3 linked regions of the Homo sapiens genome follow. The protein of the gene in region 2 purifies or fractionates together with the protein of the main gene of each other region. This does not show direct contact. Each region holds a gene or a part of one and is shown on either strand. Other genes may lie near its edges. The genes, in order: NMT1, MEAK7 and NMT2.

The links.
Region 1: the proteins of MEAK7 (region 2) and NMT1 purify together in Homo sapiens (affinity purification with mass spectrometry; 2 studies listed by BioGRID and IntAct, with this or other methods). This does not show direct contact.
Region 3: the proteins of MEAK7 (region 2) and NMT2 purify together in Homo sapiens (affinity purification with mass spectrometry; 2 studies listed by BioGRID and IntAct, with this or other methods). This does not show direct contact.

The regions. Positions count from the first base shown.
Region 1 is NC_000017.11:45,060,494-45,071,316, reverse strand, and holds the start of NMT1 (glycylpeptide N-tetradecanoyltransferase 1), read right to left. Parts: upstream 10,001-10,823; 5' UTR 9,988-10,000; coding exon 9,857-9,987; intron 1-9,856.
Region 2 is NC_000016.10:84,480,651-84,491,473, forward strand, and holds part of MEAK7 (MTOR-associated protein MEAK7), read right to left. Parts: intron 8,773-10,823; coding exon 8,628-8,772; intron 6,410-8,627; coding exon 5,981-6,409; intron 2,061-5,980; coding exon 1,942-2,060; intron 59-1,941; coding exon 1-58. UniProt on the Homo sapiens protein: Activates an alternative mTOR signaling through RPS6KB2 activation and EIF4EBP1 repression to regulate cell proliferation and migration. Recruits MTOR at the lysosome, essential for MTOR signaling at the lysosome.
Region 3 is NC_000010.11:15,163,326-15,174,219, reverse strand, and holds the start of NMT2 (glycylpeptide N-tetradecanoyltransferase 2), read left to right. Parts: upstream 1-5,526; 5' UTR 5,527-5,607; coding exon 5,608-5,717; intron 5,718-10,894.

The sequences.
Region 1 (10,823 bases), on a different chromosome or scaffold from region 2:
AGGCTGAAGTAGGAGGACTGCACCATGGCACTACGATCTGGGTGACAGAGTGAAACCTTGTCTCAAATAAAAAATGAATTTTTTGGGCAGAAATTCAAATTTTCCAGAGAAACTTATTAAAATAAACTCTAACCTCTAATATCCTTTTGATTCTACTTTTAGACATCAGGAAATCCTTTTGCAAATCAATTAACTCTTGAAGTATGGTAAGTTCACTAATAATCCTATTAGTACTCAGAAAGACCAAAGAGAGGTGAATGAAATGGCAAAGATGCCCAGAAGGAAATGACATGGCATGAATCAGTATCAGCTGTCTAGTCTCTGTACTTCTGCGGCTAAGGATCACTCAGTGCAATACCCCCAACTCCGCACATTCCCACCAATTAGTTATATCAAAAACTGCTTGTGAATCCCAAATGATGGGAAAAATAAAAACACTTTAGTACTGCCATCAAGGTACCCTGGGGCTGGGCACAGTGGCTCATGCCTGTAATCCCAGCACTTTGGGAGGCCAAGGCGGGCAGATCACCTAAGGTCTGGAGCTCGAGACAAGCCTGGCCAACATAGCAAAACCCTTCTCTACTAAAAATTACAAAAATTGGCCAGGCGCGGTGGCTCACGCCTGTAATTCCAGCTCTTAGGGAGGCCGAGGTGGGCGGATCATGAGGTCAGGAGATCGAGACCATCCTGGCTAATACGGTGAAACCCCGTCTCTACTAAAAATACAAAAAATTAGCCGGGCGTGGTGACGGGCGACTACAGTCCCAGCTACCCAGGAGGCTGAGGCAGGAGAATGGCGTGAGCCCGGGAGACGCAGCTTGCAGTGAGCCAAGACCGCGCCACTGTACTCCAGCCTGGGTGACAGAGCGAGACTCTGTCTCAAAAATAAAAAATAAAAATTAGCTAGGCATGGTGGCGGGTGCCTGTAATCCCAGCTACTTGAGAGGCTGAGGCAAGAGAATAGTTTGAACCCAGGAGGCAGAGGTTGCAGTGAGCCGAGATTACGCCACTGCACTCCAGCCTGGGTGAGAGTGAGACTCCATCTCACACACACACACACAAAAAAAGGTACCCTGGGAGGTCTGTGAAGAGAACAGCAGGTTATAAAAAGGGATTACAAAAGACCACTTTTGCTGCCACCCTCGGCCCTCCCTGGGATAGTAAGCCAGAGTACTGAGGGTGAACGAGCCAATTCTTGTCATGGACGATAACTGCTTTTTAGAGGTCACAAAAGCTCTGGTATACTAAACTCCTTAAAACCGGAATGAGACAAATGTGTATATTCCACACTGAGTTTGTTTGGCGAGTTAGACTTTGACTTTGCAACTCCAAGGTAAAATCAAATGCTGTTCAGAGACCATTATCAAGAATATGTTGAGCAGTGGCTCAATGCTGGCAGAAATCTCACCTACTAGAATGACTTTTTTTTTTTTTTTTGAGATGGAGTCTCACTGTTGCCAGGCTGGAGTGCAGTGGTGCGATTAGAATGACTTCTGAAAATAATATTTGTCTATCATGAAGAGACAAACTGGGTCCCAAGTTTGGGAACGTCCATAGGCTGTTAAATGGAGCCAAAGATAGGATTCACACTGCTGCAGACTCAAGATGCAGAACTCAATTCAGCAGGGGAAAGAAACCTAGCAAGTTCAGAATGGATCCTCTGAGATGTCAAAGAGACCAGTGGAGATGCAAATCTCAAGCCTCACTATAAAAACTAAAGTCTAGCTGGGCGCAGTGGTGGCTCATGCCTGTAATCCCAGCACTTTGGGAGGCTGAGGTGGGCAGATCACGAGATTAGGAGTTCCAAGACCAGCCTGGCCAAGATGGTGAAACCCCATCTCTACTAAAAATACAAAAATCAGCTGGGCGTGGTGGCATGTGCCTGTAGTCCCAGCTATCCAGGAGGCTGAGGCAGGAGAATCACTGGAACCTGGGAGGTGGAGGTTGTGGTGAGCCAAGATCACGCCACTGCACTCCAGCCTGGGCAACAGAGCGAGACTCTGTCTCAAAAATAAATAAATAAATAAATAAATAAATAAATAATAAAAAATAAAGTCTGGCCAGGCATGGTGGCTCACGCCTGTAATCCCAGCACTTTGGGAGGACAAGGAGGATGGATCACGAGGTCAGGAGTTCAAGACCAGCCTGGCCAAGATGGTGAAACCCCGTCTCTACTAAAACTACAAAAGTTAGTTAGGCACAGTGGCAGGCACCTGTAATCCCAGCTACTTAGGAGGCTGACGCAGGAGAGTCGCTTGAACCTGGGTGGCAGAGGTTGCAGTGAGCCGAGATCGCGCCACTGCACTCCAGCCTGGGCGACAGAGTGAGACTCTGTCTCAAAAAAACCCAAAAAAACAAAAAACTAAAGTCCAGGCATGGTGGCTCACGCCTGTAATAATCCCAGCACTTTGGGAGGCCAAGGCAGGTGGACTGCTTGAGGCCAGGAGTTCGAGACCAGCCTGACCAACATGGCAAAACCGTGTCTCTATTAAAAATACAGAAATTAGCCGGGAATGGTGGTGCACACCTGTGATCCCAGCTATTTGGGAGGTTAAGACACAAGAATTGCTTGAACCTGTAAGGCAGAGGTTGTAGTGAGCTAAGATCGTGCCACTGTACTCCAGCCTGGGCGACAGAGTGAGACTCAAAAAAAGAAACAAACAAACAAAAATCGCTAAAGTCTTCATAAGTGAAATCATGGAGGATATAATCCAAGTAAAGGGCTTAGCACAATGCCCACTACGTAGTAATAATAGTAACATTTACTAAACACTTAACCATAGTGACTCCTCAGTTGTCTCTCAAGAGAGCAGCTCTAGAAAGTTGTTGTTCTGTTTATTTTTTTGAGATGGAGGCTCTCTCTGTCGCCCAGACTGAAGTGCAATGGCGCCATCTGGGCTCACTGCAACCTCTGCCTCCCGGGTTCAAGTGATTCTCTTGTCTCAGCCTCCCATGTAGCTGGGACTACAGGTGTGTGCCACCACGCCCAGCTAATTTTTGTATTTTTAGTAGAGATGGGGTTTTGCCATGTTGGCCCGGCTGGTCTCGAACTCCTGACCTCAAGTGATCTGCGCACTTCAGCCTCTCAAAGTGCTGGGACATTTTTGAGGCAAATACTGAGCCTATGGAGGAATTCCGGTTTAGTATTTTTGGCGCTCTCAATAGAGAACACCATATTTTTGTCCCTTAAATGTAACAATCACAAGGACATCTTCTTTGAGGAATTGGAAGAGAGGCCTGAAGGGTAGAGATTTCAGATAAAAAGCTGAAGAGAAAGAGTTAAAGAAGCATCCTCCTGAAGTTACTAAATGTATGGCTCATAAATCTATGGGCTCTATAGGGAAAGGGTTAACTGCCAACTTAGTAAAGCTGGGGAATTTTAGCGTGAGCATATTAGTTGAACAATGTGAAAAATCAGCAAAACTGCTGTGCCATGAGCAGCGAGTCCCTGAAATAGGCTCTCATTTACTTTCCATTTCTTCTGCTTTCCAGTCTCTTCTCTTTGAAGCAGCTCTTGATTAGTTTCTTTTTAATTGCCATTTAATTGGGAAACAAAATTAGAACACTTATTTGATATCAGTGATGAGGTTTCTCTTTCCATTCTGCTTTGATCTAGTTTTGAAAAACCAAAAGTTGAAGGGAGAAATTAAAAAGGAACTAAAAAGATTTCTTATTTCCAAGAGCTAGCTGCAGCTATAAGCCATCAAATAAATAGGGAAAGAACGACTCTTGGAGAAGCTGAAGAAAAAAACAAAAACAAGTAAGGCTAGCTTTATGGAATTTATTTTCAGAAAGACTTTTCTCTCCTCCTAAGTTTTCATAAGGGATAGTATCTCACAACCAGGAAATGAGGAGAACTTATAAAGAATCCATGTTAACCTGTCCCAGGGAGTAAGAGAGCAGGATGGAGATGAGACACCTCTTGTCAGAGGGCTCTTGACCCGTGCTTACCAGGATCTCAATGACACTGAAGACACTGCAAAATAAATTCCGAAAGATTCCTAGAACACAATAGTCTAAAAGTTCTTTTTTGTTCCAAAACACTCAGACAATCTTCACTTATTACCCCCAAATTAAAATCTGCCAACTGATGAGATTTATTCTTTGGCAATACTTCTTGGAAAGACTCTCATTAAAAAAAAAAAAAAATCAAATTAAACCATATAGATGAATCACGAACTACAGGGGGATGCTGCATAAAGGTTATCTTATCTGACTCTCCTCTCAATTGTTCAGGATAATTACGCTAGGCACGTAACTGGGGGAAATTGAGTGCAGTAAAAAAACAAACAAAACCAGCTGGATGCAGGAGCTTATGCCCACAATCCCAGCAGTTTGGGAGGCCAAGGTGGCAGCATCACTTGAGGCCAGCAGTTTGAGACCAGCCTGGGCTAAATAGTGAGACCCCATCTCTACAGAAACTTTTTAAAAAGAAAATTAGCCAGGGATGATGGTGCATGTCTACAATCCTAGCTACTTGGGAGGCTGAGGTGGGAGGATCGCTTGAGCCCAGGTCAAAGGCTGCAGTAAGCCATGATCACACCACTGTACTATAGCCTGGACGACAGAGCGAGGCCCTGTTTCCAAAGTAATAACAATAATTTTAAAATTAAATTAAAAAATTTTTAAATAGAAAAACTGAAGAGACGCACCCATACACACTGCATATGTATGCATGTATACCTATATGTATACATGAAGGGTTTGGGTTTTTTTGTTTTTATTTATAGAGATGGGGTCTCACCATGTTGCCCAGGCTGGTCTCGAACTCCTGAGCTCAAGTGATTTTTCTGCCTCAGCCTCCCAAAGTGCTGAGATTACAGGCATGAGCCACTACACACAACCACATGAAGTTTTATATTCACCAAATGTTTATGCTGATTTAATTACGGAGGAAACACAAGACCAGAAAAGTCAAGAACTAAATTCATATACAAAGAGACATAAGTAACTAATACAACTGGCCGGGCGTGGTGGCTCACACCTGTAATCCTAGCACTTTCGGAGGCCAAGGCAGGTGGATTGCCTGAGCTCAGGAGTTCAAGACCAGCCTGGGCAACAACGGTGAAACCCCGTCTCTACTAAAATATGAAAAATTAGCCGGGTGTGGCAGTGTGCTCCTGTAGTCCCAGCTACTCAGGAGGCTGAGGCAGGAGAATTTCTTGAACCCGGGAGGCAGAGGTTGCAGTGAGCCAAGATCGCGCCACAGCACTCCAGCCCGGGCAACAGAATCCAGTACATGAATTTAGCTCATTTTATTAGCATAGAGTACTATGACTTTAGTTCCTGAAAAAAAGGGGCAGGAGGCTGGGTGTGGTGGCTCATGCTTACAATCCCAGCACTTTGGGAGGCTAAGGCAGGAGGATCACTTGAACCCAGGAGTTTGAGACTAGTCTGAGCAACATAGCGAGACACAGTCTCTTTAAAAAAAAAAAAAGGCCCAGGAGAATAAGGGTTAGCTCGAACTATCATTAACCTTTATTATATATTACACATTTTAGACTCTCTAGCATTGAAAGGAAAACTTCTCTGTCAATTTTTACATGATTTTTGAGAACATTTTAAATAATATTAAGACAAAAAACATTTCAAGAAGCAAAACACAGTGGAAAGCACACAACAGTGGAAAGCTCCACAGCAAATTGGAGCTTCCTGGTTTCTGTAGGTATTTCTTTTTTTTTTTTTTTTTTTTTGAGACAGAGTCTGGCTCTGTCGCCCAGGCTGGAGTGCAATGGCGCAATCTCGGCTCACTGCAAGCTCCGCCTCACAGGGTCACACCATTCTCCTGCCTCAGCCTCCCGAGTAGCTGGGACTACAGGCATGCGCCACCACACCTGGCTAATTTTTTGTATTTTTATTAGAGATGGGGTTTCACTGTGTTAGCCAGGATGGTCTCGATCTCCTGACCTCATGATCCCGCCCGCCTTAGCCTCCCAAAGTGCTGGGATTACAGGTGTGAGCCACCATGCCCTGCCTCTGTAGGTATTTCATAAAAACTGTAGTGAGGCTTACAATGAGAATTATTTGGGGAGAGAAAATGTGTATGTAAGAAAAATCTGACATCCTCTCACTTGGTGAGGGGAGATGAAACTCCACTAATACTGGGCTAGGCACTTTAATATCTGCCATTCATTCATACAGCAAATACTCATTAATGCCCACTAAGTGCTAGGCATTTCGAAGACACAATCCTGTTTACATGCTCCTTACTGTCAGATGAGACAGGTACCAGACACATTAAGAAAAATTACCAAACATGTAGTTATATTTATTGTTATTATAACTATTGTTACGATAAAAGCTACAATACAGTATGTGATAAGAGCAGAGGGGCAAGCTGGGAGGTTAGGGACGATCTGAAGAAAGAGGAGGAGGGAGGAAAAGGAGTGCATTCCAGATGTTATCTCATTAATCCCTACAACTCTGAGTTAAGTACCTTTCCCAAGGTCACAGGACTGTTAAGTGTCAGAGCCAAGCTTTGAGATGAGATTTTGAGATCAGAGGCTTGCTCTGTCGCCCAGGCTGGAGTGCACTGGAGAGATCTCAGCTCAGTGCAACCTCTGCCTCCTGTTTTCAAGTGATTCTCCTGCCTCAGCCTCCTAAGTAGCTAGGATTACAGGCGCCTGCCATCATGCCCAGCTAATTTTTGTATTTTTAGTAGAGATGAGGTTTCACTATGCTGGCCAGGCTGGTCTCAAACTCCTGACCACAAGCGATCTGCCCACCTCAGCCTCCCAAAGTGCTGGGATTACAGATGTGCGCCACCGCGCCTGGCCTCAGACCAGATTTAAATTATTCCAAAGTCCATGCTTTTCTACTGTGCCGTGCTGCATTTTCCCACATTGCTGCTTCTCCCCAAAACCATTTCCTCTCAAAGTTCATGGAAAAATGTTGACTCTACCCCAGATTCTTAGTGCCAGAATTAGACTCTCTCCTCCAGACTAGGCCCTTGGTTTTTCACCTACTACCTCCAAACTCATTTTCACAGATCTTTAGATTTGGGACGCTAATAAACATAATTTTTTCACCCAGACCATAACCATGCACAGAGACACCACTGCAAACTGTCAAAGTTTTTAAGGTTATCACTTACTTCTACTACAAATAAAATAATTTTATTTATTTATTTTTTTGAGATGGAGTCTCGCTCCGTTGCCAAGCTGGTGTGCAGTGGCGCAATCTCAGCTCACTGCAACCTCCGCCTCCCGGGTTCGAGTGATTCTCCTGCCTCAGCCTCCCGAGTAGCTGGGACTACAGGTATGCACCACCATGCCCAGCTAATTTTTCTATTTTTAATAGAGACAGGGTTTCACCATGTTAGCCAGGATGGTCTCAATCTCTTGACCTCGTGATCCACCCGCCTCGGCCTCCCAGAGTGATGGGATTACAGGCATGAGCCACTGTGTGCCACTTTTTTTTCTGAGACAGGGCTTTGCTCTATTGCCCAGGCTGGAGTGCAGTGGTGCAATCTCAACTCACTGCAGCCTCCACCTCCCAGGTTCAAGTGATTCTCCTGCCTCAGTCTCCGGAGTAGCTGGGACTATAGGCGTACGCCACCATGCCCAGCTAAATTTTGTATTTTTAGTGGAGACGGGGTTTCACCATGTTGGCCATGCTGTTCTCGAACTGCTGACCTCAAGTGATCCACCTGCCTCGGCCTCCCAAAGTGCTGGGATTACAGGTGTGAGCTACCACGCCAGGCCAATAAAATAACTTTCTGGCACACAGTTTTGAAAAGTGATTCACAGATTATAGGGCACAAACCTAAGGACACTGGTCAGGACAACAGTTAAGAAGATAAAAATAAAAGCAACTACAAAAAGAGCAAAGAAAATGCCACACTTTCACTTCTGGAATGACTTTCACATTCACCAACTCTCATCTGTGATTCAGATCTCTACTCAGGAGAGCTTCACTTTCCCTTCTTCCTGTTCCTACTTCCTCTTTCTCAGCTCTTCCATTTTTAGGAATATCAAACTTCAAAAGAAGACTTTTATTACATTAGATCTGTTGTGAGTTACAGCAACAGAACAGTCTTATAAAAACTAAATTTGGCAAGCTTCCTATTCCTCTACTTTCTTCCTGTGATTTTTTTTTTTTTTTTTTTTTTTTGAGTCGGAGTCTCGCTCTGTCGCCCAGGCTGGAGTGCAGTGGCGTGATCTCAGCTCACTGCAAGCTCTGCCTCCTGGGTTCACGCCATTCTCCTGCCTTAGCCTCCCGAGTAGTTGGGACTACAGGCGCCCGCCACCACGCCCGGCTAAATTTTTTGTATTTTTAGTAGAGATGGGATTTCACAGTGTTAGCCAGGATGGTCTCGATCTCCTGACCTCGTGATCTGCCTCCCAAAGTACTGGGATTACAGGCATGAGCCACCATGCCCGGCCCTTCCTGTGATTTTTAATGCCGGCTGAAGAACATAAAAGCTAGATCTTTTAACCTAAGATTTACCACAAGCAGATTATAAACCACTTAAATACAGTCATGCTTCACTGAACGTCAGGCATATGTGCTGGGAAATGCATGGTTAGGTGATTTTTGCCTTGCCAACATTATAGGGTGTACTTACACAAATCTAGATGGTATAGCCTACTAAATGCCTAGGCTATATGGTGTACATTACAGTAACATGCTATACAGGTTTGTAGCCTAGGAGCAATAGGCTGCTGCATGTTACTGAGTACTGCAGGCAACTATAATACAATGGTAAGTATTTGTGTATCTAAGCATACCTAAACATAGAAAGGATACAATAAAAATATGTACTATAATCTTGTGGGACCATCTCTTCTACGCAGTCCTTGGTCTTTATACCTTTATATCTGCACTGCCACCAATACTGCGAATAACAAGCTGGCTACGAAAATCAGACTACCTCAGACTCAGCAAGTTATACACCCAAAAATCTCTCACGACTTTCAGTTTAAAAATATATCTACAAATATAGACAGGAAGATGGGGAGAGACAGCGTGAGTGCCAGTGCCAGGCACTAACCATGTGAAGAAAGATGAATAAGCTGTGGCTTACAGAAGTAAAAACTAATTTGGGAAAAGAATTCAACATTCAAATGCCTGGTGTGTTTCTTCATCCCTAGGAACAAATAGTAACTAATGGCAAGACCCTAAAGTACAGGATAGGCAGTATGGAGCCCGAGGATTCCAAATACTCTCCAAGAAACAACATCGCTCATTTCTTGAAGCCTGGGGCTGCTCTGCAAAGGTAACAAGGCAAAGATGTTCGAAGACTTAATTATATTAATATATCGTTCAGGATACTTATGGATTATTTGGAGCAATGGAAACTATGTAAATCAAAGCATTACCATACCGTTAATTACATAGGTTTATAAGGTGAGTTTATATTTTGGGATTCTCTGGTAGTGATATTTTACAATATAATTATACATACAGTTTGTATAGTCTGATGAGTTTCCTCACTGAGGGTGAACTGCTGCGAAATGTTTTATGATTCGTTTATTGCTAGTCACGTTGTTCAAACAACACGTCTATAAGTAACGTTCCCTTTGAACTGTACTGTTACTAGACTGTCCTGTGTTGTACCATCGAAAACCATCGTCCAACATGCTCTTTTCCCAGGAATGGCCTGAAGCACACGAGTGGAACACTGCATAGAACTTTTATATAATAAAAGTACTGAACGTCTCCGGCCCTTAATATCCAGAGCACCCACCCTTGGTAAATGACAAAGGCAATAACCAATCGCCAGGCAGAATCCTAGTGACTTAGCCAATAAGAACATGAGGGTGGGGCTAGACTAAGCTCCCGGTGACTTCCCCGCACCCCAGAGACCCAGGTTGTGGGAGGCTGGACGGGAATTGGACTCCGAGGATTTCGTTACCCCCGGTTGTAGCTGTTGTCCTCCTCATTCTCGCAATCGCTGCAGTGCTCATGGCCGTTCCCGTTCCCTTCCATCATCTGCGGCAGCGGAGGTGCCGGCGGCTTCACTGCTGTCTCACTCTCGTCCGCCATCTTGAGTTGCGAGAGCAGGGCTCCGCGCCCCACTACATGGGGGGTTCCTATTGGACAAGGGGAATTTGCGCTGCATTCTGGGTTTTGTAGTTTTTCTGGCGAAGCGAGCTGCCACTAGGAGCGACTCTTTCCCAGGAAACTGACTACAATACCCAGGAATCACGAGGGACGGCTCCGGTCGGATTAAGAGGCGGGGCCACTGATACCCGGAAGCCTAGGCATTCGGCCACGCTTTGAGGAAAGAAGGGGCGCAAGGTTGGTGGGACCGACCCTTGGGAACCGGGCGGCCGCCTGGCATGATGGGAGTTGTAGTTCGATGCTGGTTTAGGGTTTCAGGCGTGGAGGTTCCAAAATCCGAGGTTTGATTTCAGCCTGCCCTTGCCAGTGCCTGGGCCGCTGGGAGCCGTTATTGGCTGCCGTTAAGGACCGTTACGTTTCCCGGGTAAGTGAAAGGGCCTGAGGCCCGCGGGTGCTACCTGCCTGGAGCCGGAATGCCCCAGGCCTTCTTAGAGTGGGCTTTTCCGCAAGAAGCCTAGTTGACTCCTGGCCGCCTTCCTCACTCGGGAGTCTGGGCAACCTGCGGTCATTGGCAGTTCAAGGTCTCATGAGAGGCAGTGGATTTTTTTGTGCGAAGCACTGACCCTAAGCCAGGAGACCACACTGCTAGGGAGGCAGGGCTCGCCGCCTCATCTTGGCCTCCAGGTACTTATCTTCGCCAAGCTCTTTCGCGCACACGTGGTCCCTTTAATTCCCCACAAGAATTTTCCACAACGACCCTTTTTTTCTTTTCTTTTCTTTCTTTCTTTCTTTTTTCTTTTTTAAATACGGCCGCCTTC
Region 2 (10,823 bases):
CTTTCCCAAAATCAACATCCACCCAAAGCCCAAAGTAATTGTGCTGCCCCCCCATACCCTGCAAAGGAAGCCAGGACAGAGAATAGCATCAGCAACTCCTCAGGGTCTGTGGACATCAAATACCACAAGCCAGCCTCTCGCCTTAAGTACCAGCCTGAGACAGGGGCGGGTGAGTGGTGAATGCCATCATCTTGTTTTCCTTAACTGTGAAATATATCAATTACTGCCATTTAAGCATCCCATGCCAAGTTACTAGAACAGTCATCTATGTCTCCAGACACCCACCCCATGGCTCTTTCTCAAGAAGATTTGCTGGCTGAAAGCACAAGTGACATCAGAGAATTAAAAATGTTAAATATATATAGAGAAAGAGACCTCCAGGGCCCAGGGCCCCGCCCAGTTAAGATAAGGGGAGAGGTGAACACAGAAGCTGACACTGCAAACCCCCTGTGTTGGGGCCCCAGTGCCCCGCTTCCGGGCAGCGATCCTCACCCCAAGACAGGCTGGGAAACTCAGCTCCGAGTGTGTGGCTTACAGGATGCGGAGGCAGACCCGGAGGCGGATGCGAACCCCTGTGCCTTCCACCCTCAGTCACATGGCTGGGCTCTGAGCTGTTCAATCTCACCCTGCAGAGAACCTCCTCTGGTCCCTGGTAGGCCTGTAACACCTGGCACGCCCTAGTTCTGACCTTGGGCAACCAGAGACCCGAGCACACTGCCCAGAGTTGACACGCGGAGCCGCTCTCTCAGGGCCAATGACGAGCGATGACCGGGGCCTGCCGGGTGCTGCCTGTGAGGCTGGCACCCTCACTCCTGCCGCCACCAGACCGCCCTTTCCAGAAGGTGCCAGGTGTTCTAGGTGGCCTGGCCACGCCCCTCCCTCTCTCCAGGGCAGCAGTGTGGTAAGCCTGGGAAGGACGCTGGTCCCTATATCGGACCAGCCTTCTCTGCCCTCAGCTCTGCAGAAACAGGGCTGGATTTTCCCAATAAGAGCTTTCTGTCAGCTGGGCGCAGTGGCTCACGCCTGTAATCCCAGCACTTTAGGAGGCCAAGGCGGGTGGATCACGAGGTCAGGAGATGGAGACCATCCTGGCTAACATGGTGAAACCCCGTCTCTACTAAAAATACAAAAAAATTAGCCAGGCGTGATAGCGGGTGCCTGTGGTCCCAGCTACTTGGGAGGCTGAGGCAGGAGAATGGCGTGAACCTGGGAGGCGGAGCTTGCAGTGAGCCGAGATCGCGCCACTGCACTCCAGCCTGGACAAGAGTGGACTCCATCTCAAAAAGAAAAAAAAGAAAAGAAAAGAGCTTTCTGTCAAGCAGCAGAGGAAAGAAATCAGCAGGGGAGCTGGCAGGAGCAAGCTGAGCTTCGGCGTGGATGCTGCCCCAACTCCTGCCCTCGGGCCTGCCTGGACCCGTGCCCACCCACTCCCTGCACCCGGCCTAGGCCTCCCCCGCTTCCCCCTGCTTCCTGTGCCATGTCACCAAGCTGAAGCGAGGGCTGGACAGGAGCCACGGTCACCCCAACTGGGGCCCCACATGCTGTCTCATGAGCTGCCGGCCGTCCATTCCCCTTGGTCCAGCACTCCCACGTATGAGGCAGGCCAGCGACGCGCAGGGACAGGTCTGGCGCTGACACCATCCCTAGCCACAAAGGCTACAAACCAATCATCTGAGGGCCAGAAAAATGGGCCAAGTGTGCCATCTGCACACAAACCACTGAGAAGCCCCAGCAGAGGCCACATCCTTCTCTAAGGGAAACCCTGGCCCAGCTGTCACTGCCCCCAGCACCGGCCCTGGAAACAGAAGGAACTGGACATGGCGTGCGTGAGGAACTGAATGCCACGCGCCCTGCCCTGATCTGTGGAGCTGAGCCTCGGGGTTGACACCTTTGCTGGGGGACATCACCAAGGCAAGACCACCACGCTCTGCCCGGGCTCACCAGTCCGTTCGGGATCGTCTGCTGTCCATGGTTCAAGTACATGTAGTGGTCGTTGTAGCCCGTGTGTGTGTACACAGCCATGCTGGGGCAGATGGAGAACAGGAAGCATCTGTTGTCCCCTGAAAGTAGCCAGAGAACAAAACAAACAGGGTCGGTGTCTGAGCCGGTCCCACAGGGCCGGAAATGCCGGTAAGCTGCAGCTCAGGAAGCAACAGGGCCAAGACCCTTCTCACCCATGTCCAGGTGTCGGCAGATCAGGGTTTGGGACAAGCTGCTAGGGACCCAGGTGGATGAGCTGGGGATGCAGGGATTAGAGGGACAGCTAATAAGGAATGGGACATCTTTTAGCTCTGGCCAGGGGAGCAGAGATCAGAACTCTGCCCACTGTCTGCTGGAATCAGTTCAGGCTGGCCAAGCACATCCGAGCCAGAAAGAGCAGGCTTCCTTTAGCTTATGAGCACGGGGCAGGTGGTCACTCCGCAGAGACTGAGGCCTCCAGCACAGCCTACCTGAGCAGGCAAGTGACGCTGCGTAGTGCTGACCCCGGCCTGAAAGAACGTACCATGCAGAGAGAGAAAACCTGCAGCTGCAGAGCTGTCCCCAGGGGCACGGCCTACGAAAGGAAGTAGTTTACCCTCGCCCAAAGGCATGGGGTGGGCACACAGGCCATTAAAAGAAAGGTACCAGTCAAAACTCTGGAAACTATGGGTCCCCAGTCTCAGAGACTCCTCCACTCCATAAGCACCTCAGCACTGGGGACAGGGCCGTAGGCCAGGCCTCGTCCTCGGAGCTCCCAGCGAGGGACACTTCCCACCATGTTCTGAGGACTTGGCCGGAAGGGCTGCCCGCCTCGACACCAGCATACACAACTGTCACAACAAGCTGGAAGGCTGCAGAGAAACAAGCTCATGGGAATTTGGGGTTGGGCTATTCATCAGGTGGGAAAGAAGTCACAGGAAGCAAATTGGGGGCACCATGATGGAACGCAGATAAGAAGGGGGCACCAAGACCAGGAGGCTGGAAGAGGACGATGGCCCCGAGCAAGCCAACAGGGCTCAGTCTGTAGAGTGTGGGCTGACACCGCCCAAGGCTCCAATCTAGAAAGATCGCTGGGGGGCCTCTGCCATCAGGGTCTGGGAGGCTTCTGGGAGGCAGCTTCCGAGGTCAAGAGGGAGGCCCTGAAACAGAGCTGGCTGGGGCAAGAGTCCCCATGGAGAAGGGATCCCATGAGGACAAGGTGTGGGACAGGTACGGAACAGTGGGGCTTGAGAGCATCGGGTGGAGGAAGGAGGATAGTTAGGCTAGAAAGTTCCACTGGAACCAGCTAAGTGAAGGGCTTTACTCTGGGCTACAGACTCAGGCTTGCTTCACTGGGTTTCAGCAGCCCCAGAGGCTTGAGGGCAGGTTTAGACGCCGCCATGAACAGCTGGGTCACACCCGTCTGCACTGCCCCCGCCCCGCTCTCCCCGACTGGACTTCAGGTAAGCGGCCCTTTGCTTTGCAATCCTGAGCCCGTCTTGCTGCGGAGCAAGGTCGCAGGGCCACAGAGTTCAGGCCTCAGCTGCGATAGGCCCAGATCCTAGTCCACCCCCAAGGGCTGTTCTCCATAGGGAAAGCCAGGAGGGGGAAGCATCATTCCCAGAATACAGGGCAAGGACCTGATGAGTTATGATTATCTGTGGAAAAAAGTGACACCAACAACGAGGACTCCTTATCTCATTCCCATAAAACAATACCCAAGCGTGCGGCCACCAGCACCTGACGCTCGGCCGCCGAGGAGCTGCCTGCCCACACAGCATGGTTTCGTGTAATTCTGAGGAGCTGAGGCCCAGAAAATGAATCAATCACCTTGCCCAGGGCTAGAGCTGGGACTCAAAATCCTGTGTTCAATCCAAAGCCTTGGGCCTTTTCAATGATTGCACAGAAAACACAAGCCAAAAGGCTCTAAGTATAATCAGTTCTTCTTTCCTCAAGCAAAAACACTCTGATGAAAACAGTCCTTTAAAAAGGTTTACGAAGCCACATTACCCCGCAGGGAAATATCCTCTGTACTCAAGGAGGTGGCCACCCTCCCCAGCATTTGCCTTCATTGTTTGTCCCACAGCTATTAAATCACTTAAAGTCTCAGATATTAGAGGTCATTATTTCCAGGACAAGCGGACAGCACGCTCTCCGAACTTGACCCACAGTCCACGGATTTGTACCATGCGTGGTGTGAGGCTGCCCTCTGCTGTTGTTTCGTGAGTATGGACACGTACTGCAACAGAATGAACTCGGGTTTGAAAACTTGGCCACTGCATTTTTCCCACATGCTTCAGCAAGATTAAGTCTGCTTGTTAATAAAACATAAAGAGCCAGCAGAGTCCATCTGAAATTAACATTAAAGGCTCTGGAGGGAGCAGCAGCTTTACCCTGATCATGATGCTCAGGGTCTCTTCATATCCTAAAGCCGAGCCTTCAGCCATGCAGTGAGGCAGAGCAATGTGTAATTTCCCCGGAGCCCGAGGCTGGGCTGGTGGGCACATGCCCTATGCCTGTGACATGGAGGCAGGGCAAGGTGGGTGTGCAGAAGAGAGTGGCCGTGGCAAGGCTGAGGCTGCTGTCTCTAGAAAGGCCCACCTGCAGGGCCGGCCCTGGGCTGGCACCTGGAAACTTTGATTTGGGGAGAATTCCCACCATTCCCAGAACTAAGATAAAGATCTAGAACATCCTGAAACCTAGATATAAATCAAACCCTAGAAACAATGCAATCTAGGAGATAGAGGTGCCCAACCCTCAACCTGGTGACCCCTGCTACCTATTCCAGCCAGATGCCACCTAGCCTCTGCTGAAAGCTCTCCTGCAAGGGCAACTCCACCTGGACACAGTTCCCGGCCTTCAGAACCTCTGCCTGGTGGAGAAATGACGATTCCAGAGGTGCGGGGTAAGATACAGGATGTACCGGGGAATGCCAAAGGCAAACCCTGGGGATGGTGGCCCACTCTCAAGTACAGAGGACAGCCCACTGATGGGCGACGCATCTGTAAACATTTCAAAAACTATCTATCTATCCATCCATCCATCCATCCATCCATCTATCTACCTATCTATCTATCTATCTATCTATCTAGAGATGGAGTCTCGCTCTGTTGCTCAGGCTGGAGTGCGGTGGTATGATCTCGGCTCACTGCAACTCTGCTTCCGAGGTTCAAGCAATTCTCATGCCTCAGCCTCCCACGTAGCTGGGATTACAGGCATGCGCCACCACACCCATCTAATTTGTGTACTTTCAGTAGAGACGTGGTTTCACCACGTTCACCAGGCTGGTCTCAAATGCCTGACCTCAAGTGATCCACCTGCCTCGGACTCCCAAAGTGCTGGGATTACAGGCTTGAGCCACCACGCCCAGCCTTATTATTTTTTTTTTTTTTTTAAGATAGAGGCAAGGTCTCACTATGTTGCCCATGCTGGTCTCAAACTCCTGGGTTCAAGTGATCCTCCTGCCTCAGCCTCCCAAAATGCTGGGATTCCAGGTGTGAGCCACTGCACCTGGCCTGTGTTTTAAATATTTTTAAAGGACTCTTTTCATCAGAGTATTCTTCCTTGAGGGAAGGAAAAGAATTTACTTAGAACCTTTCATCCAGTGCATTCAAGGTCATGCACAAAGCTTCCAAATTCCAACAAGCAAACGCGTGGCGGTGGGGGCAGGGGCAGGAAGGCCCAGGGAAGGAAAATGTCCGATCTGAACCAATTACCATCTCCTGGTCCCCTCGGAGGCATCTGTGGCTTGACTTCTCCCACGCCCCATAGACCCGGCACCGTGTAATAACTGGGCCCGTGTCCTCGCCTGAAAACTGGGGGTCACACGGCCTGTCCTGAAGAACTCTGATGTGATAAACACCATAGAGCAGCATCACATTTTCCTATCGCCCCGACTGCGTCTAGAGAAACACTTGGAGAAGATGGGAGAGCCCTATTTAGCACCCCCACCCTCTCCCTTTCTCCAGAGCTCTTTGCCCGTGCTGTGCCACTCGTCAAGGTTCAGGACACCAAGTCTTACCTTGAAACTGAGGCTTCACCTCCCAAGAGCAAGAGGCAAACCCACCGAACACATGCTTGTCATGGTCCTCGAGGACAGCCACACAGGGTCCCCGGTGAGTGATGTGGCCACAGAGCTGGGAGAAGCTGTGTCCATGGAGCTCAGACGAAAAGAGCAGGCACCAGCGGTGCCGCTGCTCCCGAGGCAGCTGGGCGTTGATGTACATGACAGAGAGGACATCCAGGATGCTCTCAAAACCCCTGCCCTGGTCCACTTGACGCTCAGGGACCAGGGTAGTCAGATCAAGAGACGAGCACAGGATGAGAAAGCCCTTGCAAATGACCACACTCAGGAATATGGCCACATGGGGGACCCTGAACACCCAGTCCTCGATCACAGCTCGGTCACAGTCATAGTCCAGCCACTGGGGCCCCAGAAGTCTCTTGCCATCTAGGGGAAGGGGATGGTCAGCATTAGTGGGGCTGTTATGTCACCATTTAGCTACTATCTAAACCCACACTGATCAGTGTGGGAGCCACGAGTCACATGCAATTACTGAGCACAGAAAACAGGGCTCGTGTGAATTGAGAGGTGCCGTCAGTGTAAAAGGCACACTTGATTTCAAAGATTTGGTATGAAAAAAGAATGTAAAATATCTCAATTTTTAAATATTCATTACATTTCAAAATTGTATTTAGGACATATTATTAGAATCAGTTTTCCCCTGTTTCTCTTTACTCTTTTAACATGGTCCCTAGAAAAGGGAAAATTTCACATGGGGCTTGCTTTGTCTATTGGCCAGCACTGATCTAAACAATCCGACTTCAACACTTTTCTCTCCTCTCCAAGCAGCATTTCAGAACCCCTCGAGATGGCAGTGCCCTGGCAATGGGGCTGGAATAAATGCCTGAGCTACACCTGGAGCCGCTCATCCAAGGGCGTCGGTCCTGCCAAGGTCACTGGAAGGGGAATGTTCCCAGCCAGTCAAGGGGCTGGTAGGGCACTTCCTGGGACTCCTGCAGTTTATCTGGGAAGTGCGGGTTTCATTCGCCACTAATCAGGCTTAATCATACAGCACTTGGAGCCCTATTTTCCATCCCTCACCCACTAAGAGTGGAGGTGACAGTAAGAGCGTGGGAGCACACACCTGGGACTCGAACAGCTGGCTTCAAACCCGAGCTCAGGAACAGCATGACCTTGCCAAGGTCTGGACCTCTGTGCCTCAGTTTCCTCAGGTATAAAATGGAGGTAAGGCCAGAACCTGCCCCGCTCGGTTATTACAAGGAACAGAGGAGCTTTTACGTCTTAAGCTCTTGCTGACACAAAGGCCCCATTTACAGAGATTATAATTCCCAACCTAGCGAAAATTTGACTAAGCTGAAATATTTTGTGTAACTCAGGCCCATTTTATTAAGCAGGAAATGTAAAAGTACTCCCAACTTCTGATAATTCAAAATTCCTATCATTTCTATTTATTTTTCAAACAGTTTCATTTCTCATTACCTATATATTACTTGAAATCTTAAGGATAATTTTAATCGTCTGAATTACCTTTTCTACTTCACTGAAAACTTTAATTTTTATTTTCATGATTCTTCTTTTAAAACATACTGATTCTAGATGGATGAACAGTTTACCCATAAGACGAATTACTGATACTTACTTGTAAAATTCTTTCCAAGTTCCAAATACCTCATCTAAACTAACTTCTGAAATATAACCTATTTTCAAGCTGTACTTTAAAATCTGGCTTTAAAACAAAAGGGCAACATATTTATAAAGTAAGTCTGCTTTGCAAAGTGATTTGCCACAAGGTTTTTTTTTTTAATCCCAATTAAATTTAAATATATACTGCTTCTCACCCAACAACAGAATACACATTCTTCTCAAATGTGCTTTAAACATTATCCAGAAGTGACCATACTATAGGCCATAAATGATGCATCAACAAATTTTAAAGGATTCAAATAATACAAAGTATCTTCTCTAAACATAATGAAATATAATCAAAAATCAGTACTAAAAGGCAATTTGAGGAATTCACAGGCATGGAGAAATTAAATAACACACTGTTACATAGCCAGTAGGCCAAATGAAAAAATCCTAAGGGACATTAGAAAATATTGAGATCAATGAAAATAAAAACATAACCTATCAAAACTTATGGCATGCAGCGAAGGCAGTGCTGAAAGGGAAATGTGCAAGTGTAAATGCTTATTTGAAAAAGAAGATCTCGAATCAATAACCTAGTATTCTATCTTAAGAAACTAGGAAAAGAAGACCAAACAAATTTAAAGCAAACAGAAGGAAGAAAATAAAAGCTAGAGGAAAATAAATAGAAACTAGAAAGACAACAGAAAATTAATGAAACTAAAAGCTGGTTCTTCAAAAAGTACCGACAAAAATGTGAAAACCCTTTAGCTAGACTAAGAGGAAAAAGGGACAAGAGACAAATTATTTAAATCAGTAATGGAAGTGGGGACATCCCTATTGCTTTTGGGAAAATAAGGATTATTTTAAAATATGCCAACAAACTAGAAAACCTAGAAGAAGGTTCGAGGGCTCACGCATTCTGGTTTCAAAGCTTTACTACACAGCTACAGTAATGGAGACAGCAGGTACCGCTCTACAGCAAAAGACCTGCATCACCGCGTCCACGCACACTTGCCTTGCAGCTTCATGTCAGAGAGCAGCTGAGCAGCCAGCACCTGCACCCGGGGGTTGGGCCCTGGGGCTTCCTTCCCAGTCCAGCCTCTCAGCTCCTGTCTGTGGCTTAGCACGTGCACCACAGAGCCAACCAGATCCTCTGTAAACTGTAAGATCACAATTTTACCATTAAAAACAGTTCCACCATATCCTGAGACCTATGTCATGCCCACATGGAGAAGGGCAATTTTCTTTAACACCAACTATGATGGGCCACAATGTGGGGAAAGGTCATGCAATGTATGTAGTTACTCGTTTTTCTAATGATGCACTTGGCTGGCCTAGAACTTTTCCCAAAGCCTTTGTCCAGGAGTTCTGACCTCATCCCAACAGTATTGGGGTTTAGGACTCCCCGAGGATGGACAGCTCCACAATGCCTGCTGTCTTCATTGCTCAAACCAACAGGATGATTTGCTGAGGCCCAGGAGCTACCCCCTCCAGAAAATCCCTGATCTCCCCAAATTTGGTTGAGATCTAAGGTTTATTTTGCTGAGTTTTACTTGCTTCCAAAAAGGAAGGCAAGTCTTCCTGTTTCCATAATGATAGAGGGCAAGCAACTGCTTTCTGGAGTTGCAGCTCGCTTCCAACAGGGAAGGGGAATTGGAGGTTTTCCTGCTTCTAAGATGGCAGAGGGCAGTCTGCAGCCTGGGCCCCACTCCTAGGAAAGTAGATGAATTGGGGTTTTGTCTTAAAAATTCTCCTGATGACTAAAACTTAAACAACCAACTGGTCTTCATTTACCAATGGTCTTCTCCTTACCATTAGAGCACTCAGTAATTGTACAAACTGTGTGAGCGTGTGTTTGTTTTGCTGAACTGTTTTTATTTGTGGCTTCTGTTTTTATTGTTTCAGTCTTTTTCCCACTTGGTTTGATCAACTCTACCTGACTTGGTCAAATCCGAGGGAACGTTCCAAATTATAGGGAAACAAGGCCTCTGAATTGGCTAAATTCCCATAGCTGGGGGAAAAAAAAAAAAAAGAAGGAAAGAGCAAGGCCACCAAAAGGAAAAAAACATTTTGACTGCCTTGAGGGGCTTTATTTCCATAACCTTTACTAGCCAGGCCCAAACTAAAAGACCCAGGGCAGCGGCCCACACTCTCGCTGGGCGGCTAAGTTTCTGCCCCGCCTTTTTTTTTTTTTTTTTTTTTTTTTTTTTTTTTTTTACCTCAACAGCCTGAGTTTGGTTCCTACATCAAAATCCTTTCTGGTTTGATATTTGTGTTACTTTTGAAATACCAGTCATTTTTGTCCCAGGTAAAATACGGTAGTAAAAGATTTAAAATGATTTTTTTAAAGAGCTCAATGGTTAAAGTCAGCTTAATTAAAAGCTAATCAAGATGTGTGTGTGTGTGTGTGTGTGTGTGTGTGTGTGTGTGTGTATTTAAAGGGACATAATGCCTTTTTGTCTCTCCTAGGGTCTTGTTTTTAGAAAAAAGAAGATTTATTTCCTTCTCAATCAACTGAATTTTTTTCTCCATTTGCTTCTGCGTGTCTCTCCTTCCTCTTGCTACCCTCCGCTGTATGAAGGACCTAAAATAATGTCTAAGAGTCTGGGATTCCTTAAAGAAAACAGAGAAGGTGCCACACTCGTTTCTGAGAGAAATTTGTTTCTTTACAGAACCCCAAAGTTATAAACAGACCAGTTCCTCTCAGCTCTTAAGCTGCTTTTCTACTGTGTTACCTGATTTTTGTCTAAAAAAGTTATTACTACACAGCTACTCTTTAATGAAACCAAAAGTTGGTTCATTGAAAAGATCAACAAAAATATGAAGAATCTTTAGCTACACTGACAGAAAAAAGGGAGACAATTCAAATTATTTAAATCAAAAACAGAAGTAGGGGGCTGGGCGTGGTGGCTCACGCCTGTAATCCCTCCACTTTGGGAGGCCAAGGCGAGTGGATTACTTGAGGTCAGGAGTTCGAGACCAGTCTGGCCAACGTGGTGAAACTGTATCTCTAAAAATACAAAAATTAACTTTGGGAGGCCAAGGTGGGCAGATCATTTGAGGTTAGGAGGTCGCGACCAGCCTGGCCAACATGATGAGACCCCCGTCTCTACTAAAAATACAAAAATTAACCAGGTATGGTGACACACACCTGTAATCCTACCTACTTGGGATGCTGAGGCAGGAGAATCGCTTGAGCCTGGGAGGCAGA
Region 3 (10,894 bases), on a different chromosome or scaffold from region 2:
TATCACACCACAGCCCATACATTCCATGGGCTATATTATTAGGTGCCCACTAAAAGCAACTTTAGGTTGAGGCGGAAAGATTTCTTGGGCCCAGGAGTTCGAGGCTGCAGTAAGCTGTGATTCTGCCACTAAACTCTAGCCTGGGCAACAGAGCAAGACCCTGTCTCAAAAGAGATATAATTTTAATTTAAAAAAAAAAAAAAACAGCTAAGGCTGGGCTCCATGGCTCATGCCTGTAATCCCAGCACTTTGGGAGGCCGAGGCAGGCAGATCACTTGAGGTCAGGAGTTTGAGACCAGCCTGGTCAACATGGTAAAACCCTGTCTCTACCAAAAAATACAAAAATTAGCCAGGTGTGGTGGCACATGCCTGTAGTCCCACATACTCAGGAGGGTAAGGTGGGAGAACTGCTTGAACCTGGGACCAGAGATTGCAGTGAGCTGAGATCGCGCCACTGCACTCCAGCCTGGGTAACAGAGTGAGACCCCATCTCAAATAATAAAAATAAAATTAAATTTAAAAACAGCTTTAGAAAGATATTGGGCTGGCAAACAGGGAAAAAAGGGGTGTCATAGATTCATTCATTCGTTCTATAGCTCTTATGAAGTGTCCTCTTTGTTACAGGCACTGTTTGGGTGATGGAGATACAGAGAGAAGCACATGACGTATGATTCTTCAGGAGCTGCTGGGCTAGTGCTGGGATGATGGCAAACATATAAACCCTCGGCAGGGGAGGCAACATGGGAGCTGTGTCCTTGGTGATGGCAGGTAGTAAGGAAAGGGCATTCAAGGGCCTGGTGCCTCCAGAGACGAGGAAGGGAGCCCGGGGCATATGGAGGGCCTGGAGAGGCTCAGGTCAGAGCTAAGACCAGAGGTACAGTGAGGCTATGGTGTGGAAGGGACTTGAACACCAACCTAGGGGGATTTGACTTGATGCAGAAGGCAACTGGGAGCCACATTGTTTCTAAGTCAGGGGATGAACATGCTCCGATTGCTATGGAAGAATTTTCCAAGCAGCGCTATTGAAAAGAGTGATGGAGCCTGGATGCAGGGAGACATGGCATCTGGAGGCTGCTGCAGCCCTTGGTGTGTATACAGCTGGCGCTCACCTCTTCCCCTTCTTTGTTTCCTCCTCCCTTTCCTGATTTTCCTCTATCTCTTTCCTCTTCTTTACCTACTGCCCTCACTTTCTTCATCAGTTACTTTCTCCTCCATCCTTTCTTCCTGAAAGGGCCAGAAGCTCTAATTGTGGACAGGCTAGAACAGATCCTTTTGCCTCCTTTAGTATTTCTACTTCGAGTAAAAATGTCTGATGAGACAGTGTACTTCTGTAATATATCATCCTTATCAATAAAATAACTAATGAAGTTTGGCAATAAACTATCCAGTGATATACTCGTGGGGAAAACCTGAACACATTTAAGGAGTTTGGCAAGCAGTGCAGTTTCAAGGTGACCCTATTTATAGAATGGAGGCACCTTCCACCTCCTAAATGAACACATACTTCCATCTGCTGTGGCATTGTTCGGCTTCCTCTAGAATTTTCCTTGGCATCACCCGCAAGCCCCAACTTGTCCTACAGGGACAAGACACAGACTCACCAACTGTGAAGTTCTGAAATGCAGCTGATCTGCAATACTCACTGTGGCACCAACCTGCTGGTTTGAACAAGTATGAAAACCTTTTAGCAGAATACCAAGCAATAGGAGGTGCAAATTACCCTCACAGTGACCACGAGAAAAGCTTCTCCAACGCACAGTTGCAAATGGTGCAGGGTAGTTACCGGGTTCCTCAAAAATTAAAAAGAAACGGAGTCACTTAAAAAATAAAATAAAATCCAGCCAGACTCTAAAGCAAACCAGCTAGCAAGAATAGCTAGTGTATTGCAAAAGTAATGGGCTTTGCTTTTGTGAACCCAGAATGGAAAGTGCAAACTAATGGTTTGGCATAAGTCTTTTTCAGACATACCCAGATATACAGATAGTGATCGTGATAGTAAAAAAAGGAGTGTCTTTAAGATTTTTTTTCTTTTTTTCTTTTTTTTTTTTTTTTTTGAGACAGAGTCTTGCTCTGTCACCCAGGCTGGGGTGCAGTGGCGCCATCTCGGCTCACTGCAAGCTCCACCTCCTGAGTTCACGCCATTCTGCCTCAGCCTCCTGAGTAGCTGGGACTACAGGCACCCGCCACCACACCCGGCTAATTTTTTGTGTTTTTAGTAGAGACAGGGTTTCACCGTGTTAGCCAGGATGGTCTCAATCTCCTGACCTCCTTATGCGCCCGCCTCGGCCTCCCAAAGTGCTGGGATTACAGGCGTGAGCCACCGCGCCCGGCCTAAGGATTTCTTTTGGTCTTTGTTTTTCTGTAAGTTGGTTAGTTATTACTGCATAATAAAGCACTCCAGGCCGGGCGCAGTGGCTCACGCCTGTAATCCCAGCACTTTGGGAGGCTGAGGCGGGCGAATCACTTGAGGTCAGGAGTTTAAGACCAGCCTGGCCAATATGGCAAAACCCCGTCTCTACTAAAAATACAAAAATTAGCCCAGCATGGTGGCGGGCGCCTGTAATCCCAGCTACTTGGGGGGCTGAGACAGGAGAATCGCTTGAACCCAGGAGGCGGAGGTTGCAGTGAGCTGAGATTGTGCCATTGCACTCCAGCCTGGGCAACAAGAGTGAAGCTCCGTCTCAAAAAAAAAAAAATGGTTAGGATAGTACGTTTTATGTTGTATGTATTTTTCCAAAATTAAAAAAGAAGTTAAAACAATTTAAATGAAACAAGACCAATTGTACAACTATAATCTTACATCTGTAGTAGGAGTGGGCCAGGCAGAATAGAAAATTCCCAAAGGCCTTTTAAAATACACTGGCAAGATACTACTTAGCCCAGGGCCTGGTGGCTAGGCTGGTTCTCTCCTTTCCAATTGGAGGCCTCTGCCGCAGACACGCTCCACCAGATCATCGGTCAGGCCAAGAAGCATCCAAACTTGATCTCCCTCTTAGTATTTATTGGAGCTAGAGGTACTGGAGCAGGACTGTATCTCTTGCGTCTGGCATTTTTCAATCCAGATGTTAGTTGGGACTGAAAGAATCACCCAGATCCCTGGAACAAACTGGGTCCCGATGATCAATTCAAGTTCTACTCAATTAATGTGGATCACAGCAAACTGAAGAAAGAAGGTCCAGATTTCTAAATGAAATGTTTCACTATAAAGCTGCTTTAGACTGAAGGTCTTCCAGAATCCGTCCGCACAATTTTCCACTTCACCAGGAAATAGTTCTCCTCTAAATGAATGAAATCATGTTGATGTAATCTATTGGAGATTACACTGATTAATAAATAACTGAAACTTGAAAAAATAATACACTGGCAGCCATTTCACAGTGCTCCCATCCACCAAATAAACTTTAGATCTAAGATGCTGGAAGTTGCCACTTGGTTCCAATTCTCCAAATTCTGAAATTAAGCCAGGGAAATAAGTAAAAATATTTAGAAACATAGTGTTTCTATACGGGACAGTAGGATTTAGGAAGCCCCAGGGTCATCTGTAAACTTTTCCTTCCTTCCAAAGATTAATGCTGTAAAACATTTGTATTATATAATACTTCAATCCAGTACTGTACCGATGTACTTCAATCCAGTACTGTACCAACTTGTTTCCATTCTGGGGAACAGATGTTCCCTGTTTGTCATTGTTTTCTAGTGTTTCACTGGTTTTTGATGCCCTCATTTTATTTTTCCAGGATTATTTGTTTTCTTATTCTTTTTTAGAGCAGTTCTTAGTCAAAACTTCTTGAAAATTCAGATAAATATATGACTGCTGAGTTTCCTTTGCCTTAAGTTTTAAAAACTCTTTTAGAGAACCCTTCTGGCAGGTTAGAGTGGATGATTTGATTGATAGGCTTGCTCCTGGCCAGTTTCCTGTTGGTTACCCGAGCGGGCTGCGGGTTCTCCAACAATCCATGTTCACAGAGATGAGCTGCAGGAACCTCACTCATCTGTATTTGCTTCTATCCTAAAGTTTCACAGAGGTGACATGTGACATTTTGCCTCAGAAATAGTTGCCGTTGTTAAAGGCAATATTGTATTTCCTTTTGTGTTTTGACCCCATTTGCCCTTCTTACAGAATTTTAGTTGTCTCAATGCCAAACAGCTGACGGGCTTTGAAATCGCTCTGCAGTTTTCATCTTTTGATACTTCTAGCTCATTGCGTTTTAAAAACATAGTCTCCCTTGGGGAAAAAAGCCATAAAATGCTCCTAGTATCTTCTGCAAAAAAAGGACCCACACCAAAAAATTCAGGTGGCTCTTTAAAGTCTCATTTTCCTCACTGAGCGGGTTCTGATGATTATCTTTGCAAAACCACTGCGGAGACTTCCGGTGGCCTAGCAGCACATTTGAACAAGATCATCTCAGCAAAGCAAAGGACAGGACTGCTCTGTACAGAATGCAGTAGCAAATAAGAGAGGCTGAACTTCACCGGTCTTCTATTTGGCAGTACTACAGAATGCCTCCCTTCCCTCTTCTGAGAGAGACAGCGGACAATTTCAGCACAGAAGGCCGTGCACGTTTGCTTGGAAATCTAGGTCATGACCTTGACTTTGGGAAAGCCAGGGTAGCCTACCTGAAACTGTCCAATCCCCCAGCATCGTGGACACGTCCCCAAGTCCCTCAAGATGTCTGTTCTGGTCTGAGCCGTCCGTAGTAGTGTCCAGGGAAAGCAGGGGTAGCTCAAAAATTTCTGTCAAGAGTTTTAGTGCTGCAAGCCTGGTTGGGACAGGGCGGTGGAGGGCTGGAAATACTGTTTTTGACTTTGAATTTGATTTTATAATGTATTAGATGGATAGATAGATGCGAAATGGAATTGTTAACATGTATGTGGAGGGGCGGGAAGAGTTTCTGGAAAGCCCCATCCCTGAGTGCCTACTCCTGAGTGGGAAAAACCCCTGCACGGGCTGGGAGCGCTCCCTAATTCGTCCAGAAGTAAAATCGCATGGCCTGTGTTCCAAAAATGCCGCCACTCAGGATGTCAAGTCTGCACGTTTGCAGCTTTGAGAGCCGAGCCCCAGGCAGAGGCACCGCGCAGGCCTGGATGTACAGGACTCGGCCCTGTGCAGGGCTGGCCAGGGTGAGCAGGGTTGGAGCTGGCGGGGCGGGGAGGGGCGGGGCCATCTGGGAGGGGCTGCGGCGGTGGGCGGGGTTAGAGGGCGGGTTTGAAGCCGGCAGGGTGGGGAAAGGCGGGGCTGGAGGGGAGGGGTCTCAGAGGCGGGCGGGGTTAGAGAGCTGGATTGAAGCCGGCGGGACGGGGAGAGGCGGGGCTTGGTGGGGAGGGACGAAGAGGTGGGCGGGGTTCAAGCCCGTGGGGCAGGGCGGGGCCGGCGGGCAGGGCGGGGCCGGCGGGCTGGGCGCGGACGGTGAGGGGCGGGGATGGAGGGCGGGGCGGGACGGAGGGCGGGGAGGGGGCGGGACGGAGGGCGGGACGGGGCGCGGGCGGGGCGGGGCGGGGCGTAGCGCCCGGGCTCCGACTCCAAGCAGTACGGCGGGAGGCACTAGAGGGAGCTGCGGCCGCTCCGGCCCGGCCCCGAGCACCGCCTCCCCAGCCAGCGCCGCCGCGATGGCGGAGGACAGCGAGTCTGCGGCCAGCCAGCAGAGCCTGGAACTGGACGACCAGGACACGTGCGGGATAGACGGGGACAATGAGGAGGAGACGGAGCACGCCAAAGGGTAGGGGCGGCGCGCTGGCGCACCGGGCGCGACAGGGCGGGGACCGCGCGCGCCACGGTCTCCCGTTCGGGGGTGGCTCCCAGGACTGGGGGTTCTTCGGCCGCTCCGCCCCGCGATGGCTTCTCCGTGGCGCGGAGCCCATGGTGAGGTCCGGGGCGCGCGGCTCGCGGGAGAGTGCAGTGCGCGGGGAGGCGAGGCCCGGGGTGGGCGGGGAGGCTGGGGCCCGGGCGGGGAGACGCTACTGTCACTTGCCGCGCGCCCCCGGCCAGCCTCGCCCATCCCCGCCGGCGGCCTGGCCCAGGAGGCGCCTGTTGCCCTCGCCCGCGGGTGGCTCCGGTGGGCGCCGAGGAGAGGCGCTACGCCCTTCCCTTTGTGGCGGCCGCAGCCTGGGGTAGGAGGTCGCCCTCCTCTGCTCCCTGCCATCCTTGTTAAGTCCCTTCAGACTCCCTCTCCGCAGCCGCCACCCGAAAAGAATGGGCAAAGACGTGGGTGGAGCGGCGTGGAGGTGCCCCGATGGTGTCGGGGCCGCAGGCGGCGAACTGCGCAAAGTTCTGGCGCCGAGGGGGTCCCGGGCCCGGCCCCTGCTGGGGATACTGGGCTTTGCACCGCCTCGCCTGTCCCTAGAGCTCTTCAGAGCAGGGCCGATCCCCTGAACCGGGCTCCCGCTGACCTGGCCGTATCCTGTTTGCAAAGCTGGTATTTGATCTCCAAAACTCGATGCACCACGCATTTTCACACTTGATCGGATTTCTTAATCCTTTCCCTTTGCCCCCGAACCCTGCAGACTTGATTTGCTCTTCTGTTGGAGAAAAGGATTGCTTCAGGTGAAGGCCGGTGTTGATGCTCTCTTTTTAGAGGCAGTGGGTCATTTTAAATAAAAACTGGTGTCCTTTTAAAGTGCTGTTTACATTACCCTTTTACCCTATTGGATTCAAACTATGCGCTGGCACAGAGCGGTTCTTGCTACACCCTTAGAAGTGAGATTTTTCGAACCATGGTGAGTGATGGAGAAGTGGGTCAGCTTAAAAAACATGATAGGGAGGCCTGAGTCACAGATGGTTTACTCAGTTCGTAGAGAGATTCTTGAAATGATTGATCATTGAAAGTGTAAATCATTTGCATTCTACTTGTCTACTTTAAGATTTATTATAGAAAGGGACTTTTGACTGACCTCTAATTCATTATAAAATATTAACAAATGAAGAAAAAGAAAAGCTGACTATGTGCATCTCCCATTTGCAAGTTGTTTTTATCTTTGCCGTGAATACTTCAGTGGCGGCTGCAAGTATCGAATGTTCGAGTCTAGAATATTTTTTTTTTTAAAGAGAGGAAAGGAAATTGCATAGGAATCTGAACCTGAGCCCTGTTTATGCAGGGATAGAAACGTGTTTGTGATAGATAGCTAAATACAAATATGTTTTTGAAACGGTAGTTCTATTGCCAGAAATGGGCCCAGGTGCAGATGCAAGCTGATGGATTAGCTTCAGTACCTGTGTTTTCTTTCTGGAGAGACCCTGGACTTTTATCTTCTCTGCTGTAATTTCTGTTTATTGTTCCTCCTTTGATTGATATTCTAGGTTGGGGGCTTGATTAGGACTTCTTTGCTTACACTGTTGAGAATGCCCCTGGTACAAAGAATTCCTCATCTGTGTGCGCATTGATCTGAGCCTGTCCCCCGACACCTTTCAAGAAGCTAAAGTTCCCAGAGTAGCACCCAGAGGCATCTGTGCTGCCTTCGGAAGTTTTCAGTTTTGTATATCAGCACATTTTATATATTAGAAAGGTTAATCAAAATTTAGAGATGCCCCATGGACTGAAATGTTTTCACCAAGAGCAGATACCATGTTAATAGCTTCTAGTGGGAAAAGATTAACATAATGGATGTATTGTACTCTATTTAAATGTAAGGAGATTAGGAAAACTCCAAATGACTGCTCTCCTTGGATTGCCTGTTTGGATTTGAATTTAGACAATGTGTGCCAAATTTGGGGGAGTAAATGTGTTTTATTTGGCTCATGTACTGATGATATCGCAGTAGAAACCTAGGTTTTCTTTAAGTAGCTCAAGTTTGTAAATGTTAAAATTTGAAAGACTCTTTTTCTATACTCGGCCTCTTCATTCCCATCAGTTTAAATAAATAACAAATAATGAGCCTTTGGATGAATCAGTAAGAACATGTTTCACCTCTTAAAGGCAGTTTGTCAATTTGAGGCCACCAGGCAGCGGCCAGTGCAGAGAGGTAATTTACTGAATAGTGCCCTTGTGGCCTGAAAGAATTCATTTACCCCACCACTCAGTATAATGTATTTACTAGTCCTTTTAGACATATTAAGTTGAAACTAAAGCCTCAAATAAAAGGAAAATACCCAATTAGAGTCTTGTTTTGCACCAAAATGTAAGTATTTAAATATGTAAAACTGCATATGCTGTTCTTTTATTTTCATGGAATTTTCTTCATGGACTAAAAAGGGTATTTCGTTTTATAGATAATGCTAAGAGTCCATGAATGAAATATCAGATGTTTTATGTTTAATTAAAAGCAATGGCGTAAGTATTATAAAATACTTGAGTCTCACTGTCTTTATATCTTGTTTTTCATGGAAAATGTACCTTTTTTTTTTTTTTTTGAGACAGTCTTTCTCTGTCACCCAGGCTGGAGTGCGGTGGTGCAATCTCGGCTCACTGCAACCTCCGCCTCCTGGATTCAAGCAATTCTCCTGTCTCAGCCTCCTAAGTAGCTGGGATTACAGGCGCGTGGCACCACACCCAGCTAATTTTTGTATTTTTAGTAGAGATGGGGTTTCACCATGTTTGCCAGGCTGGTCTCGAACTTCTGACCTTAGGTGATATGCTTGCCTCGGCCTCCCAAAGTGCTGGGATTACAGGTGTAAGCCAGTGTAAAGAGTTAAATGTACTCTTTAACTTTTTGGTCCACCCAAGCGTGGAAGTGGCAAACCACTATAAAACTTTCATGAATTACAAAAAACATGGGGGAAGAAGGGATTGTCAGTTTTAATTAGTGAGACTATATTCAGACAAGTATAATTTTATTATTTTCAAACAATGTTTGGCAATTAGAACCAGGCTAATAGAGGATTGCCTAAAGACATCTTTATATAACTTACTTTAACACACGATTTGCAATTAGAATTAGGGAGTAGGTCTTTATAAAGAGCTTGAAGGAGCCTGGAAAGACTTTCTACATAGATAAAAATTAACCTCAGTCCAGCTTCCTATATGAATTATTAGAAATAGTCCAGATTACTGAAGATTTCTGTTCTGCTATGGGTGGCAGTGGTACAAAAAGGTGACCTGGAGGATGATTTTTTTTTTTTTTTTGAGATGGAGTTTTGCTCTTGTCACCCAGGCTGGAGTGCAATAGTACGATCTTGGCGCACTGCAACCTCCACCTCCCGGGTTCAAGCAATTCTCCTGCCTCAGCCTCCCAAGTAGCTGGGATTACAGGCGTGCATCACCACGCCCAGCTAATTTTGTATTTTTAATAGAGACAGGATTTTACCGTGTTGGTTAGGCTGGTCTCAAACTCCTGACCTGAGGTGATCCCCACCTCTGCATCCCAAAGTGCTGGGATTACAGGCGTGTGCCACCATACCTGGCTAATTTTGTATTTTTAGTAGAGATGGGGTTTTACCATGTTGGTCAGGCTGGTCTTGAACTCCTGACCTCAGGTGATCCCCTGGCCTCGGCCTCCCAAAGTGCTGGGATTACAGGCCATGGTGCCCGGCCTGGAGGATGAATTTCCTAGGAGCTTTCACCGTTGGATCTGAGGTTAAGATGCTCAAGGATCTTTAATACTTCCCTCATTTTGCTGTGTTTTTGCCTTCTGTTACTTTCTTCTGAAGGGCTTTGGGGACATTGAGGACAGGCCAAATTGTTGAAGAATTATTTAGAACCCACTGTCTTCTCGCTGTCCTTTTGATGTCCGGCTTCTCCAGTTATGAAATACATTTGGTATTGGTCATGATCTCTTACTGAGCTAATGTTATGGTCCATTGTTGGAGACAGAGTCAAATAAAATTCGTGTTGAACTTTGGTAACAAAACCAAATCTGTCCCCTTGCTTAACCAACATTGACTTACAGAGAGCATATACTTCCTAGAAAAATAGATGTTTCTCATAGCTTTCCGTTAAGAGAGCTTTTCCCTCAATATTCACTGGAAGCAGCTACTAAGAAGATTTATATAGGAACCAAAATAAACATAGGTGAGTATGTTTTTGTTGGCAGATACATGACTAAATTAGTCCCTGGGGTAGACATGAAATAGGGTTAAGACCTTTTTTTTTTTTTTTTTTTTTTTTGAGACCAATTCTCGCTCTGTCCCCCAGGCTGAAGTGCAGTGGCGCGATCTCGGCTCACTGCAAGCTCTGCCTCCCAGGTTCACGCCATTCTCTTGCCTCAGCTTCCGGAGTAGCTGGGACTACAGTAGGCGCCCGCCACCACGCCTGGCTAATTTTTTTGTATTTTTAGTAGAGACGGGGTTTCACCATGTTAGCCAGGATGGTCTCCATCTCCTGACCTTGTGATCCGCCCGCCTCGGCCTCCCAAAGTGCTGGGATTACAGGCGTGAGCCACCGTCCCCGGCCTAAGACGTTTTTAAGAGTTCTTTTTCTTAGAAAGATTGAAGATCTGGTATTGGACAAAGATGAAAACTTTGGAATTCTTTTAACAAAGAACATAATCTGTCTTCTACCATCCCCAATTTAGGGGGTAAAAAAAGGAAGTTCTTCTTTGGGCACTATGTTGTTGTATCTGACTTCATATGTCTGTTGTTGAAATTGAGTTGGGAACTTCCCCTTTGTCAGCTGTGTGGTATCAGTGGGAAAATGCAGAAACATTATGACTTGCAATAAGTTTTTCTTATGGAAAATTTAGGGATAACTCAAAGCTGCCCTTTCTGAAATTTGATCTGTTATCAACTGTATAAATCTAAATGGAAAAATAGATTAACGACAGTCTTTGCCTGAGGGACCTCCTCAAATCAAGAACTACTGTTTGAAATGATCAAGTGTCTGCTAAGACTTGCATCTGAATGGGTGATGTCACCCTTTGGCCCAGAACAAATTTTTTCCAGGGTTGTCTAAATATAGGACACATACTTTGCCATCTTTGTTTGTTAGTGCAAATGTACGTTATACATCTATACTAGTTAAAATCA